3 separate regions of the Homo sapiens genome follow, and all the other regions are reported to be linked to region 1. Evidence: microRNA targets listed by miRTarBase, many of them from high-throughput screens and not tested one by one. Region 1 holds a microRNA gene; each other region holds the end of a gene's coding sequence. Distances are from middle to middle.

Evidence for each region. The annotated mature microRNA hsa-miR-652-5p reads CAACCCUAGGAGAGGGUGCCAUUCA and lies in region 1 at 3,650-3,674, opposite strand. An mRNA with a match to its seed (bases 2 to 7 or 8) in the 3' UTR can be bound and repressed. Matches are read on the target gene's strand: a 7mer-m8 pairs with bases 2 to 8, a 7mer-A1 pairs with bases 2 to 7 and ends in A, and an 8mer does both.
Region 2: miRTarBase lists HDX as a target of hsa-miR-652-5p. The part of its 3' UTR that is shown has no 7-base or 8-base seed match.
Region 3: the mRNA of BCL2L15 is a reported target of hsa-miR-652-5p. Seed matches in the 3' UTR shown: 7mer-m8 at 3,043-3,049.

What each region holds. Positions count from the first base shown.
Region 1 is chrX:110,053,845-110,059,022 of GRCh38, reverse strand. It overlaps MIR652 (microRNA 652), which reads right to left and starts at 3,694; the gene lies at 3,597-3,694. The region is part of intron 2 of TMEM164 (transmembrane protein 164); the gene reads right to left.
Region 2 is chrX:84,317,850-84,322,849 of GRCh38, reverse strand. It overlaps HDX (highly divergent homeobox), which reads left to right. Exons shown (of 11, transcript NM_001177479.2): 11 at 836-4,972. The coding sequence ends at 961. Among named protein-coding and RNA genes, the nearest start is that of MIR548I4, 95 kb to the right of the region's middle.
Region 3 is chr1:113,876,560-113,881,559 of GRCh38, forward strand. It overlaps BCL2L15 (BCL2 like 15), which reads right to left. Exons shown (of 4, transcript NM_001010922.3): 4 at 257-4,581. The coding sequence ends at 4,564. The region is part of intron 3 of AP4B1-AS1 (AP4B1 antisense RNA 1); the gene reads left to right. Among named protein-coding and RNA genes, the nearest start is that of PTPN22, 7.3 kb to the left of the region's middle.

The DNA of each region.
Region 1 (5,178 bases):
AACAAAAGAAAAAATAAATATACTGTACTTCACCAAAATTAAAATATTTCATGCTTCAAATGACACTATTAAGAAAGTGAAAAGACATCCCAGACTGAGCATGGTGGCTCACACCTGTAATCCCAGCACTTTGGGAGGCCGAGGCAGGCAGATCACTTGAGGTCAGGAGTTTGAGACCAGCCTGGCCCACACAGCAAAACTCTGTCTCTACTAAAAATTAAAAAAAAAAAAAATTAGCCAGGCGTTGTGGCACATCACATGCCTGTAATCCCAGCTACTTGGGATTACTTCTCCTGCTGAGGCAGGAGAAGTGCTTGAACCAGGGAGGCAGAGGTTGCAGTGAGCTGAGATCACACCACTGCACACTCCAGCCTGGGCATCAGAGTGAGACTCTGTCTCAAAAAAAAAAAAAAGAAAGAAAGGGGAGGGGAGGGGAGGGGACCCAAAGAATGGGAGAAAAAATCTGCAAATCATGTATCTAATAGGAGTCTAGTATTCAGAATAAATAGCTCTTAAGACTCAACAATAAAAAAGAAAATTAACAGATGGACAACTCAATGAAATCAGGAAAACAATGTATGATCAAAATGAAAAGTTAAATAAAAAGATAGAAACTGTAAACAACAGCCAAACAAATTCTGGAGCTGAGGAATACAATGACTCAACTAAAAACAGGAGATTTATCAAGCAGAAGAAAGAACCAGCAAATTTGAAGAACAGTTATTTAAAATTACCTCATCAGAAGAGAAAAAGAAAAAAAAGGATGAAAAGGAATAAAGAACCTTAGAGGGTCAAAAATACACAATGGGGGAAAAGATGCTTGCTTGAACAAATGATGTTGGGGTAACTGGATATCCACACGCAAAGTAATGAAATCAGACTCTTATCTTACACCACACACAAAAACCAACTCAAAATGGGCTTAAGACTTAAATGTAACATCTGAAACCATAAAACTCCTAGAAGAAAACATAGGAAAAACTTCTTGAAATTGGTCTTGGCAATGATTTTTTGAATATGACATCAAAAGCACGTGCAAGAAAAGTAAAAAACAAACAAACAAAAACAATTAGGACTACATCAACCTAAAAAGCTATATAGCAAATATTTGCAAACCACAAATTTGATGTCAATATTTAAAATATGTAAAGAACTCATAAACTCAATAGCAGAAATACAAATAACCCAATTTTAAAATGGGCAAAGGATCTGAATAGACATTTTTCCAAAGAAGGCATACAAATGGACAACAGGTATATGAAAAGGTGCTCAACATCACTAATCATTGGGGATATGCAAATGAAAACCACAGTGAGATCTCATGTCACCCTTGTCAGAATGGCTATTATAAAAAATGCAAAAGATGGCAATATTGGGAAGGGTGTGGAGAAAACAGAACCCTGGAAAACTGCTGATGGAGATCAATAGAGCCATTATCAAAAATAGTATAGTTTCAAAAAAAAAAAAAAAAAAAGACCTATTCTATGACACAGCAATCCCACTTCTGGAATACTTATCCAACAGTTGAAATCAAGATCTCAAAGGGATATCTGCACTCCTATATTCCTTGCACCGTTATTCACAATAGCAAAGATATAGAAACAAGATAAATGTTCATCGATGGATGCATGAATAAAGAAAATGTGGTATATTATCCAGCCTTTAAAAAGAAGGATATCCTATCATTTGCAGTAACACAGAAGGACCCAAAGGACATTATGTTAAGTGAAATGAGCCAGAAAGAAAAATATCTTATGATGTCACATAAATATGAAATGTAAATTAGTCTAACTCATAGAAGCTGAGTATAAAATGATGGTTAGCTGGGGCTGGTGCTGGGAAAGTAAGATGTTAGTCAAAAAGTACAAAGTTTTAGTTTTCCAGGACAAGTAAGTCCTGGATATCTAATGTACAGCATGGCGACTATAGGTGAAAATACTGTACTGTATACTTAAAATTTGCTATAAGAATAGATCCTAAGTATTTCCAACACACACACACACGCATACACACATAAATGATAACTCTATGATGTAATGCATGTGTTATCTTGATTGTGGTGATTTCCATATATATATATAATCATTAAGTTGAAAACCTTAAATATATACATTAAAAATAGCTAAAGTATTAAAAAAACTCAACAATAAAAAGATAAATAACCTTGAACAGACATCTCTCCAAAGAAAACACACGGGTACTCAACATGCACATGAAAAGATGTTCAACATCATTAGTCATCAGGGAAATGCAAATCAAATCCACAATGAGATGACACTTCATACCCACTAGCATGGCCAAAATATAAAAGGCAAACACAAGTGTGCATGAGGATGTGGAGAAATTGGAACCCTTTTATACTGTCGGTAGGGATGTAAAATGATGCTGCCATTTTAGAGAAACAGTCTGGCAGCTCCTTGAGAGGTTAAACATAGAGTTATCATATGACTCAGCAATTCCACTCCTATACCTGGGGGAAATGAAAACCTATGTCCAAGGGAAATAAAAACCTATGTGCACCTGAAAACTTACAGATGTTCACAGAAGTATTATCTGTAATAGCCAAAAGGCAGAAACAACCCAAATGCTCACCAACAGACAAATGGATACATAAAATGTGGCATATCCTTAAAATGGAATATTAATTGGCCATAAAAATAAGTGAAGTACTGATACATGCTAAACACAGATGAATCTCGAAAACATACTAAGTGAAAGAAGCCAGTGGAAAAAGGTCACATATTATAATTACTCAATTTCTATGAAATGTCCAGAATAGATAAAATCTATAGAAACAGAAAGTAGATTAACAATTGCTTAGGGCTGGTGAGTGGGGGAAAGGTAGGGAGGGGGGTGAGCTAAATCGTATGGAGTTATTTTTTGGATGATGAAAATGTTCTAAATTTGACTGTGGTGGTGGTTGCACATATATGTGAATATACTAAAAACATTCAATTGTACACTTTAAATGAATGAATTATATGGTATATGATTATAACCCAATAAAGCTGTTTAAAAAACAAACTTTGGATAGCTCCTTATTGCTTGATAAATAAAAGTCCAAATTCCTTAATTGGGCATTCAACTCCCTCCCCTCCTGCATCATCATTTGACCCCCGACCAGCATCATTGCTCACTACTCCCTTTTACATGCTTTTCTATCCAACCAAGATGAATTATGCACCATTACCCATATATCCCTTGTGGTCTCCCATCTGTCTTTCTTCTCGCTATTCCTTCCCCCTGAGATTCTCTCCTCCTGACTCATCTTCACATGTTAATATTCTACTTCTTTCACAAAGCCCAGTTCAAATGCTCCCTCCTATGCAAACCCCTCCCTGTTCTTCAACCCTCACATAGTAGGCACTTAAAAAACTATTTACTGAAAGAACGAAGGTACGTAGTTCTCCTATATGATGGCTCTCATTTACAGAGAAGATAATTCTCCCAAAGCCACAACTTTACTTCTTTCTTCCTTTCCTGGTCACAGCAGCAGCTCACTGCTTCAGCCCCCTTACCCTGAGGACAATCCCAAACTGGTACCTTGATGAAGAAAGTACTGACATTACATTATGCCAGGGCCGCCGAGTACAGTTGTGTAGGTTGTGCACTGCACAACCCTAGTGGCGCCATTCAATTATAGTCTATGTGAATGGCACCCTCTCCTAGGGTTGTGCAGTGCATAGCCATTCGTGGCGGCCCTGCTTGGAAACATTCCTAGTGTTTGAGAACAAAGCCAAAAAGAACACTCAATGAGAGAATCACTATGTTGTCGCTGAGAAGTAGGCAACTCAAAAATCTTGTCAAGAAAAAAGAAATTCAAGAGAATAGCATGGCCATAGCACACAAACAGCATTTGCATGGAATTGAAAACAGGAACATCCAAGAGAAAAATTGTTACTGATGTTTCTCCAGCAGTGGAGAGAGAACAGGACACACATTCTGGTCACACTACAAAGCTATGACAGACATGCAAAAAGGTACAGTTTTCCATGGACTACCAAAGCCTATATGGTCTCGCTCATGAGACTTTTCAACTCCATTAGGTTCTGATTTTAGGTTATAAAACAGTCCCTGTTTAATTTGGCTTCAGGTACCTTGATATCAGAAAGGGCTGATACACACAAGTGTTCTCATCTCTATAAAGGTCTCTCTCTCATCATCAATCGACTTATCAGCCTGGTGATTTATTAAGAAGTGTTTTGTAATGTTGGGGAGTGTGACCCAATCCACTAGAAACCAACAGCCCTGGGTAAGCTGATAAAAATTAGGCTTTGAACCTACAAACCAAGTTGCAGAGTTAGGACCCGTGTCAACTCCACCAAGGCACAGACACCCTCAAGCTCAGTCAGAGCAGCTGGCCAACTAGCTGGCCAAGTCAAAACTGCAGCCAGTAATTCAGGGCACTCCAAAATGGAGAGCCATAAAGGACTGGACATATTGGTAGTGACAACAGGTGAGCTGGTGGTAGAGCTCAAGGGTGCCAGATGTTGCGTTTGTTTCTTCTTTTTGTTCCCCACTCCAGTTCAGTTCAGCCTCCCACTTTCATATTTGCTCCACCTGGAATATTTCATTCCACTTCTTCTGTCTCCTCTAGAGATTTCCTGGATAAGTCACAAAAATTAAGCATTCTTTTTCTGAACTCCATTGGTATTTGTTGGTACTTATACACTAATCACTTATTAGTCTCATACTGTTGTTAGTAACAACAATAATGGCAGTAGTTATTCCTTACTGAGTGCTTACTAGGTGCCTGGCACTACAGTCAATGTCTTACACATATTAGTTCATATATTCTTCATAGCAATCCTATTATGTAAGAGATTATTATTTTCCTCCTGTTTGCATACAAGGAAACTGAGCTACAGAAAGGTTAAATAAATTGCCTAAGGTCGCACAACTAATAAGTGAGTCAAAGAGTCAGGCCTGGAACCCAAAACTATCTGATTCCAGAGGTCATGTTTGTTGCCAATACTACCTTTTGTCTCCACCATAAGATAATTTATCTTTTCTGGAGTTCCCTCTGCCTCCACTCCACATAGTGCCTAACACACCATCGGACATATAAAAGTCCTCCAGAACACATGCGCACATCTGCCTCTGCTCCCTGTCCAGAGCCCAGCCCAGGACATAAGCTGGAAGAGAAGGGAAGACGGTGTAGTTAGCATGAAGGGGCTT
Region 2 (5,000 bases), 26 Mb from region 1:
GGAAGCAGCAAATCAATCATTAAGTTCAAAGTTCCTCATGGTCAAGTGAACATTAGCATTGTCAGCTGCGTAAAACTTGATTAATCATTTATTTCTTTAGAATGGGTGCATGTTCTACAACTTCAGATAAAACAATTAGACCATGACAAAGCTTATTTCATCATTATTGGATTATCCTTATTACTCAAGCAGAGAAATGAGTAGCCCTCCAGATACATCATTACTACAGATAGATCCACTGATTCAGCTGTGCCCTGGTGGGTGCTTGGCCATCTGTAGGTATGAACATAGCCTTAGGAAAGAAAAAATAAAATTACTTGGTCTTTTCAAGTTGTTAAAATTTAGTCTAAAGTAAAATAGCTGGAGGTTTTTCCTAACTACTAAGTTCTTTCTCCCACTGAAGAACAAAATAGTCTTTTGTTAAATGCAGTCTTCTACAAAGGACAGCATAACTGGCATGAATATTTTAACAAAGAACGCAATTTTAAATCCCTTAAACAGTGATCAATGCACACTCAAAACTAGTATGAAAATCACTAACCTCAAACACTTCAAAGCACTTGGTTCAGAAGAGTTGCTCATTTCCCTCCTAATATCCCCTTTGTACAGGTTCTACTCTACAGAATTCACACTTTCAACATCTAGAATTTTGTTACCTTCTGAATAATGTATGAAGAATTTTTCTTTTAGGTAAGGCATTGTCTAAGATCCTGAAATATAAATTATTCTTTAAATCCATAAGGATAATTCACCATGGGAGGACTACAACTATTAATATAAATTGGAAAACAATCTATCCACATACTAATCCAAAAATATTATTTTTTTTATTCAGGCACTGCTGTCAGATTTACCTCCTGAATTAGAGGAAATGGATTTCAATCATGCCTCACTGGAGCCTGATGATACCTCATTCAGTGTATCTTCTTTGTCAGAGAAAAATGTCTCAGAAAGTTTGTGATTTCAGTTGGAGGGAATATATGATACAGTCTTTTGGCTTCGTAACAGGTGTGCATTTCAAGATAACTGCATTCTGTTGCCCTGGTATTCTTTAGTTGGGAAAACACATTGTTGAAACGGACGTATTCTGTGAAGAATGTACAAGATATAATGGCTACAGTGCAACAAAAATGTAGGTGAAATTTAAAAGCATTGTTTGAGAGAGTATTTTTTTAACTGATGGAACTCTGGAAAAAAATTATATTTAAGTTTCAGCAGTTTAACCCTGAAATTCATTATGTCTAATTTCTAACCAGAGACAAAATAACTAAAGACATTTCAGCATTGCTTATCAAGTTGCTACAGCTTGATTAGTCTTGTTTTTGTAGCCATTACATCTTCTTTCTTCTTCTCTCCTTTTCCTATCATCCACTTACACTTTTTCTCAGGAAAGTGGACTGAACATTTAAAACAAAACTTTAAAAAATTATTTAACTCATTATTTAATGAGTTCTCTGATTTAGTTTTTAACCCCTATGAAAATTTGACTTAAACTAATGACTGAAAATTAAATGATTACAGGTATGTAATTGTAAATTGCTGGTGTTCTTCTATTATCTAACCCAAATATTTGTGTGGGGGTGGGGAAGCACAATGGAAAGGTAATTTAACCAACATAACGTCAAATAAATTACGAAGTGTACAGAAACAAAATGTTGTCAAAATTAGTCTTGATGGGGATTCTTCATTACTACAAATGACAAGTATTGATACGATTGACATTCCAGTAGTAAATTTGTATACCTGGGTTAGATGAAGTGTTACACAAATATTTTAAATTTATCACCATCTTTATAATTCTTTTTTAGTTCTTACATGTTATGAAACAGGAAGTCAAGGTAAGCTGCTGAGATTTTTTAAAAATTTAGTCATTCAGCTTTGCCACAAAATTTACCTCATTTCCATATGAGGCCTGTACAGAGCCATCAGCCAAGGATAGTATTCAAAAAGAGTTATACTACTTTGGTTGTAAATCACAGTCTTCTGAATTCCATGAATACTATTCTATGAGTACACACCTAAAATGGGCAAGCTACCCAGTTTTCTATTATTAGTAGGTACCAGATGGCAACACACTGTAGACTGTTCTTTGTAGTTCTTCCTTTCTGGAGTACCAGATGGTATTACCAAGACCCATAGAAGAAAAAATGTCAGTTTCTCCCTAAGCCCACAGTGTCATATATTTGTGACTTGGCAGTGTGCAATTGTGTTGCATGGTTAAATTACTATCTATACCTAAAAGATTAATGAAGTAGCTGGATGGCTGTTTCAGCCATCAAGTTTCTGTTTCCAATTTGTTTTTAATTTTTGTTGGTACCTAGTAGGTATTCAGATATTTTTAAAAATTTGTAATTAGAGCCAAATTTGATCTTGAAATTTACTAGTACTAACTTATGAACACAGAAAGGCAGTCATAAATGTCTTTACCCTTGAAGTGTCCCATCCTCCCACACACACAAATAGGTAAGCTCCCACTGATAGTCTTTCATTTTGTCACTTATTTGTTTATATTGCTGCCATACTACTGATATGGTCCCTTTGTTAGTAGGAATATTTCAGTGTTCAGATATGCTTCCTTGAGCCATATGGAGTTTTGCAAACAATAGTTAGTTTTTCTTGCTGACAAGTCAAATTCCATTCAGAGAAAGCAGCAGAGAGTAACAGAGCCTCAGATATTACGATTAAATGTACCAGTCACACCAACTCCTCCATGAGATGAAGAGTCGCCCCCATATACAACGAAGTTAGAAACCACTTATTAAGTAGCATGAACAAATTCCAGGCCTTCAAGTCTCTCCTAGGGTCTGCTTCATAGTCATTGAGTTTATCTTTCAAATATAATTACTTCTGCTTCAATTTAAGCCCCTTCTTATTTGGTTCTCATTGCAAATTAACTATAGGTATATTCTCTCCTACAGCTTTTAACACTATAGATTTTATTTGTCACGCATCAGCCATTAGTCACTAAATCGAAAAATACTTGTTGAGCTCCTGCTATAGAGAAGACACTGTGCTGGACATTGGATTTCTCAGCAAGCTGTAAACATCACAAATAATTATTTCTTTTTAACATCTTCTATGATATTAATAAACCATATTTAAGTAGAATTTTTAATAGATTTAAGGTTCTGCTAGGTGTGATTCTTAGAAGGATTCCTAGTCCACAATTTTGAGAGAAAGCATAGATGATCTTTTTGTCTCTGTTTAACATTTCATCAAAATAGAAACTATATAAATCATAACAATACATTTAGAACTCCTTTTGTCTTGAAATTTGTGTTTCAGCACCAGAATATTTTTCTTCACCATCATTGGAATTAAAACACTTCTAAAATGAAATGTGGCTATTCTGTAGCAGGAACTGAAGGAAATACCTCTATCTATAGAAAAAGAATCATAATTGCCAGATTGAAATTATTCATGGTAGACTTTGAAAAAGATGTCAAGGTCAAGCTTTGAAAAGTTGTTATGAAGAAAGTATATTTTTTACATATGTAGATAGGAGTTGGTTTTGAGATATGTTAGAGCAGGAAAAATTATCAGCTTATAATTACTCTTGTGGACATCTTCATGGCTGGGGATAAAAATTAACTAACTAGTGTTTCTTTCTTTAGGGCTTTGAGATTATTAAAACAGACCTTACTATCTGAAGGCTCTCTCAGGGAGACAGAAGCCAATGTGGAAAAAAACAAAAAACAAAAAACAACAACAAGAAAAAACTTCTTTTTTTCTTTCAACTACATTTCTATGTCTGCTTTAAGCTTAGAACAGCCAAGCAGTTTTTAAGCCAGAAATGTGTATGTAAGAGCACTTACCTTCCAAAATGTGTACATATGAAAAAAAAAGGAAGGTATTTTCTTCTTTTCAGCCAAGCTAAACTTATTCACAAGAAAATGAGAATTGCAATTGCTCTGGAGAATAGGAAAATTAGCACATGCAAAGAAAACCTTAAAAGAAAATTGGCCTCTTCATGGAAACTGGGGATGTTTTGTCCTAAGGTCAGTTATCAACAGCAGGATTTTTGTATTGCCATTGCAAGCATGTGATAGAAATGTTTGTTATTGTTGGAGAAGAAAAGGCTGAGACCCAATTATACCCTGTACTCTTTATTCGACCAAGACCTCAAAAGATGTCAAAGAAGCCATTTCTCCAAAGACAGCAACATCTATTGTGAGGCACTTTCATATTCAGCAGTCTGTAAGTTTGTAGGAGAAAACATAAGTGGTTAATTTAAAATAATTTTGGGCTCTAAAATGGACTTTGTTGCCTTTTTTGGTGGGGGTGGTGGGAATCGGATTCAGCCCATTTCCAAGGGATAGTTTCTTCATCTCAGACAACTATTTTGTGATCCTTTTTAAAAGACATTCTGAAAACTTTAACTCCTGCCCTTCTTCCGTATTACAGTTGTGTTATTCCAGAAATATTGTCTACTTTTTTAATATATTAGATTTTCATTCAGATCTTAAACATGCAAACATGTGATAGGTTAGCTTTTTAAGGGAGTTATCAGTACCACTGTATCTAAATGTTAGGTAAATGGGTAGATTTCTCTTTGAAGTTGGTATTTTCCTTGGCAGACAGCACTGTATCATGCTCTTCACCAAGCTATGCTCTGTAATGCTATAATCAAGGAGGCTACTAACTTGTGAACCTACAGTCAACACACCATTGCTGAAAACAAACTTTGATTAAGAACAGATTTGCTAGGGGGAAAAAAGAGTAAAGTGATATTTTCAAGCAAATATAATTAAAATTGTTTCATTAAAATATATACTGAGTGTATATTGCTCCACACTGAAATTTTATTTTGCATTAACTTGTTAAGTAATTCATTTTAGCAATCCTGCATCCCATTTTACTAGTACTACCTCTGAAATATACTGTCACCTTAAAACCACATCAGACTGTAATGTGAATTTTTGTAGAGTTTTTATTTAAACTTTTATAGAGGCAATAAATGATTTCCAACTAATAGACATCTATTTCTTTATTTTAATATT
Region 3 (5,000 bases), not on the chromosome of region 1:
TGGGATGACAGGCATGTGCCACCACGCCCAGCTAATTTTTGTATTATTAGTAGAGATGGGGTTTCACCATGTTGGCCAAGCTGGTCTTGAACTCCTGACCTCAGGTGATCCACCCGCCTTGGCCTCCCAAAAGTGCTGAGATTACAGGCGTGAGCCACCGAGCCCAGCCTGAAGCATTTTTTTTTTAAAATAAAGAGCATCAGGACTCTTAAAGCTTAGCATCCTTTTCAAATATAATCAAACTTGAAGTCTCATCTGAGTCAATCAGCTATTCATTCATTTAATGAATATTTTTAATATCGATGTACATGCCAGATAATGAAGAGGAGGGGTGTTACAGAAGTATACAACAAATTGTATCATTCAGCAATCCTTTATCCTAGTGGGGAAGATGACTATACAGATAATTACAACTTAAGGCCATTTTTTGGATAAGAAACATAAAAGTGGTACAAACAAAAGTTCAAGGAGGCAAAGACCACTTCTTATTCTGGTTATATGGATAGCCTTCATGGAGAAGGCTTCATGACAGTTGGGTTGGGTCTTGAAGATGTCTACAGGTAGAGCCTCAGAAAAAGGAATATGAAACATAGGGAACAGTAGGAGGAGGGCAGCTTTAGTGACTGGCTCGGTTATACTAGAGCATTGGGATTGTAGAGGAGAATCATGATTGATTAAGGCTATATAGGGCAGTTAGGGCCAGATACTGGGGGAATTTGAATATCAGACTGTTATTTGATGAACAGTAGGGAGCAGCTGAAGGTTTTTTTTTTTTTTTTAAAAAAAACAACCTTATTAAGGTAGTGCTGATGTACAATAAACTACACATTTCAAAGTATGCAGTTTGATAAGTTGGTGTGAAATCATCACCCATAAAATCACTACAATCAAGATAATGAACATGTCTAATCACACTCAAAAGTTCCACTGAAGGACTTTAAGAGAATGGCATTCAAAGCAATGCTTTTGGAAAGTTATTTCTTGATTTAAAAAATAAATGCCCCCTTCTGATAAGATGTTTAAGTCTTGTAATCTTCATTGGTATGTTAAATTTAAAAATGAATGATACCATATCTAAAAATGAATCAAAATAATAGACAAAGAAACCACAGCTTTGATCAATCTGATGGCAGTATATAGGACAGACTGGAATGGAGCAGGAACAGAACAATCTATTGAAAGCCTAAGTAGGAGGCTTTATTAATAGTCCAGGCAGTTGCTAATAAATCTGGTAGAAGAACCAGGACAAAAATGAAGTAACAAATGAGAAAAACTAGTTGGGTGAGTTGGACTGGAGAGAGAGAGACAAGGTAAAAATGACTGAGGTTTTGAGCTAGTTGTATCGCAAACAGGGAGAGTATGGGGATAAGAAAGGTACACATAAATAAATAATAAGCATCTGTGGGTATGGAATTGAGAAGGGAAATAAATCATATTTAGGAATCACTCACATTGATGTGAAAGTAAAGCCATTAAGAGTGGTTTGCATCTGTGAGAGACAGGGTTAATGGAGAGAGAAAAAAGTCAAGCTAGAACCTTATGAACTGCATAACACAGAATTCCAAATTGCTAATGGCACAGTGTTTAAAATATTCCAAGTACTCACCCTTTACAAAATGTATTTGTTTTATTTATCTCTCACAAAAATCTTATTAATAAGTTACCAAATCATCTCTATTTTACAAATGTAGAAACTAAGGTACAGAAGAATTATGTCTCTTGCCCAATGTCACATAATTAGCCTATGGTGAAACTAAAGTGTTAAAATCAGGCAATCTGAATCCATTTTTAATTCCTGGGTTACAATGTCTTCTTCCTGCAGCCCAATCACTTAAGCTCTCCTAAGATAGAGTCTCTTAAAATACACAACACCTAGGCCAGAGCTGCTTAACGCATTTGCCTAGTATAATCCCCGTGGGCACCATATCTTCAAATCTCAAGATAATGCAGTATACTTGGAACTGTTTTATGAGCAACATAGGATAAAACTGGGAGCTGGAATTATTCAATTTAGATTGAATTTGCTGAAACTTAGTTCAAATGCATAGACAGAAGTTTATTTCATAAAACAGAATAGCAACAAAGTAAAAATTTTGATTTTGCCTATGAAGTCAAATACCACAAAACTCATCATCTTGAGTTTATAGTAACATAAGGGACAAAGGAGTACAAGTTTCTTAACTGGTAGCCAAAAATATAATTTCTACTAAAGAGAAACAGGACACATCATTTATGGATTACTAACTTGTTGTGATTTAACTAGGAATAGAGGAAAAAGCATAACTTTATTTATTTTCTTTTTTTTTTTTTAGACAGTTTCGCTTTTGTAGCCCAGGCTGGAGTGCAATGGCGCGAACTCAGCTCACAGCAACCTCCGCCTCCCAGGTTCAAGTGATTCTCCTGCCTCAGCCTCCTGAGTAGCTGGCATTACAGGCACGTGCCACCAAGCCTGGCTAATTTTTTGTATTTTTAGCAGAGACAGGGTTTCACCATGTTGGCCAGGCTGGTCTCAAACTCCTAACCTCAGGTGATCCACCCGCCTTGGCCTCCCAAAGTGCTGGGATTACAGGCATGAGCCACTGCGCCAGGACAAAGCATAACTTTAAAAAGCAAAAATGTATTAACAGCACTACATATTTACTTCTCTGCATTTAGAGGAGATACATAGATGGCTGGCTGATAGAGGGGAAGTGGTTAGCTTTGTTAAACTTTAGCCAAAGTTATTAATGCTGCTTTTCATGAATCACTGTAGCAATGCCTTTCTTCTTGATATTTAGGAAAGTAGTCTGGTTTTTGGAGTCTCTACCTGATGACTGCCTACTAATCTATTAGATCATTAAGGACTATTTTGAGATACAAGATCATACAAATCATAAGCTTTGCTTCCAATCACTCTCACTTGTAGGGCCAGAGAAATGGACTACTCAGGAGCTACAGAGCTCTCTGATTGGCTGAAGACCCAGAGAAACTGTGGATTATGCAAGAACTAACAAACATATGGAGACTAAGTTCCCAAAGAAGAGTTAAATATCTTTGAGTTTAAACCCTATCTACAGCTGTGTTTGCTGGAATTGTCAGGACTGTAATAGAGTTTCAGTTACCAAGGAGAAATGTTGATTTAGAGAAGGGGTCAGCCAACTTTTTCTGTAAAGGGCCAGCTAGTAAATATTTTGGACTTAACCAGCCATATGGTCTTCTATAATCATTCAACTCTGCCATTGTAGCACAAAAGCGGCCATGGACAATATGTAAACAAGTGAATGTTGCTCTATTCCAATAAAACTTTATTTACAAAATAAGACAGCAAGCCAGATTTGACGCGTGGGTTGTAATTTATCAATCTATTCTCTATAGTGATGGCTGTCACACTCTATATGTACATCAGAATCACCTATGGAACTAGTTTAAAAGGTAGGTTCCTAGGCTCCAGCCTACCCCTACAGAATCAGAATCTCTAGGAATGCGAATCAGCAATTCAATAAGGTCCACAAGTGGTGTGTGAACCACACTTTTAAAGCTTTGTGTTATGCAGCTAGCTTCATCTAAGCTGGGGTGGCCTTGCTGTCCTAGATGTGGGCCAGCACTTCCTGCATCCTGTGGCAGTAAAAATGGAGTAACTTTTATTTTCTTTGACCTTCCTAGTAGAAACAACTGTTTTTGTTTGTTTGTTTGTTTTTTGCTTCCAACCTCTAAAATGCATAAAATAGTCCTTCTCAGGTGAAATTAACATGAAGTTTAGGGATGATTTTGAATGAAAATGCTCAACTTAAAATAACAAGATTTTAGGCCGGGCGTGGTGGCTCACGCCTGTAATCCCAGCACTTTGGGAGGCCAAGGCGGGCGAATCACGAGGTCAGGAGATCCAGACCATCCTGGCTAACACGGCGAAACCTCATCTCTACTAAAAATACAAAAAATTAGCCGGGCGTGATGGCGGGCTCCTGTAGTCCCAGCTACTCAGGAGGCTGAGGCAGGAGAATGGAGTGAAACCGGGAGGTGGAGCTTGCAGTGAGCTGAGATCGCACCACTGCACTCCAGCCTGGGTGACAGAGTGAGACTACGTCTAAAAAAAAAAAAACAAGATTTTTCAACCAAAAAGCTTCCTGAAATCCTTTAAATTGCAAAATTAGTAGGCACAATTCTTACCAAAAGACAGGGCTACATCTGAAGAAATAGTTTCCATTGTTCTCCCTTTCTCTCAAAATACCTCCAGCAAAGGCCTGCCCTGTTGCTTATAATTCCACTACTAACAAGTCATTACTTTGTGTCTAGGGGTCTTTGCTTCAACAGAACCTCATTAAAACTCATGTGAAAACAGAAAGTAGAAAATCTCTGTGGTTTGCATTAAGTTGACAAAACAAAACAAAACAAAAACCAACTCTGCAGGCCTCTGGCAGCTGCTCCCAACTTTAACAATCAGTAAAAAATAACTTATTCAGCTAAGTTCAGTTCTGATAAAATGAAAAAAGTGCTTTTTTATTTGTTTGTTTGAATTCCCAGGAATCAATCACCCAATCAGTCAACAAGGAAGTGATGTTCAGTCTCGTGAATAGCTCCAACTCTTCAGCTCTCCAGATTTTCCTAGGGAAGACAGAGAAAATCCTACAGTCAAAGGAATTGCTTTCAGGAACTTCCTAAGAAACCAGGAAATGATCTGCAGATAGCTCCAGGAAATGTAGCTCTTATTAAGGCTTTCACTGACCCTGTAAATGGAAAGGAGTGCTCTATGACAGCATAAGTTCTGATGATTACTAAAACATGGGCTTAGAATACCTTATATAGTTACCACTACAGCAAAGACTGTTTTTTCTTAGATACTATTAAGGTGATTCTGACTTCCCTAACACACACATAGAGAAGTTAGGAAAAAAAGACCCAGAAATTTACAAAGGAACGGAGTGAAGCCAGGCTGAAATTAGAACTCTATCATGAATATACTTTATAGATGATTATGTGTAGGAAATGAAGATTAGCTTTACAGTAGTCAGCAGTCAATATTT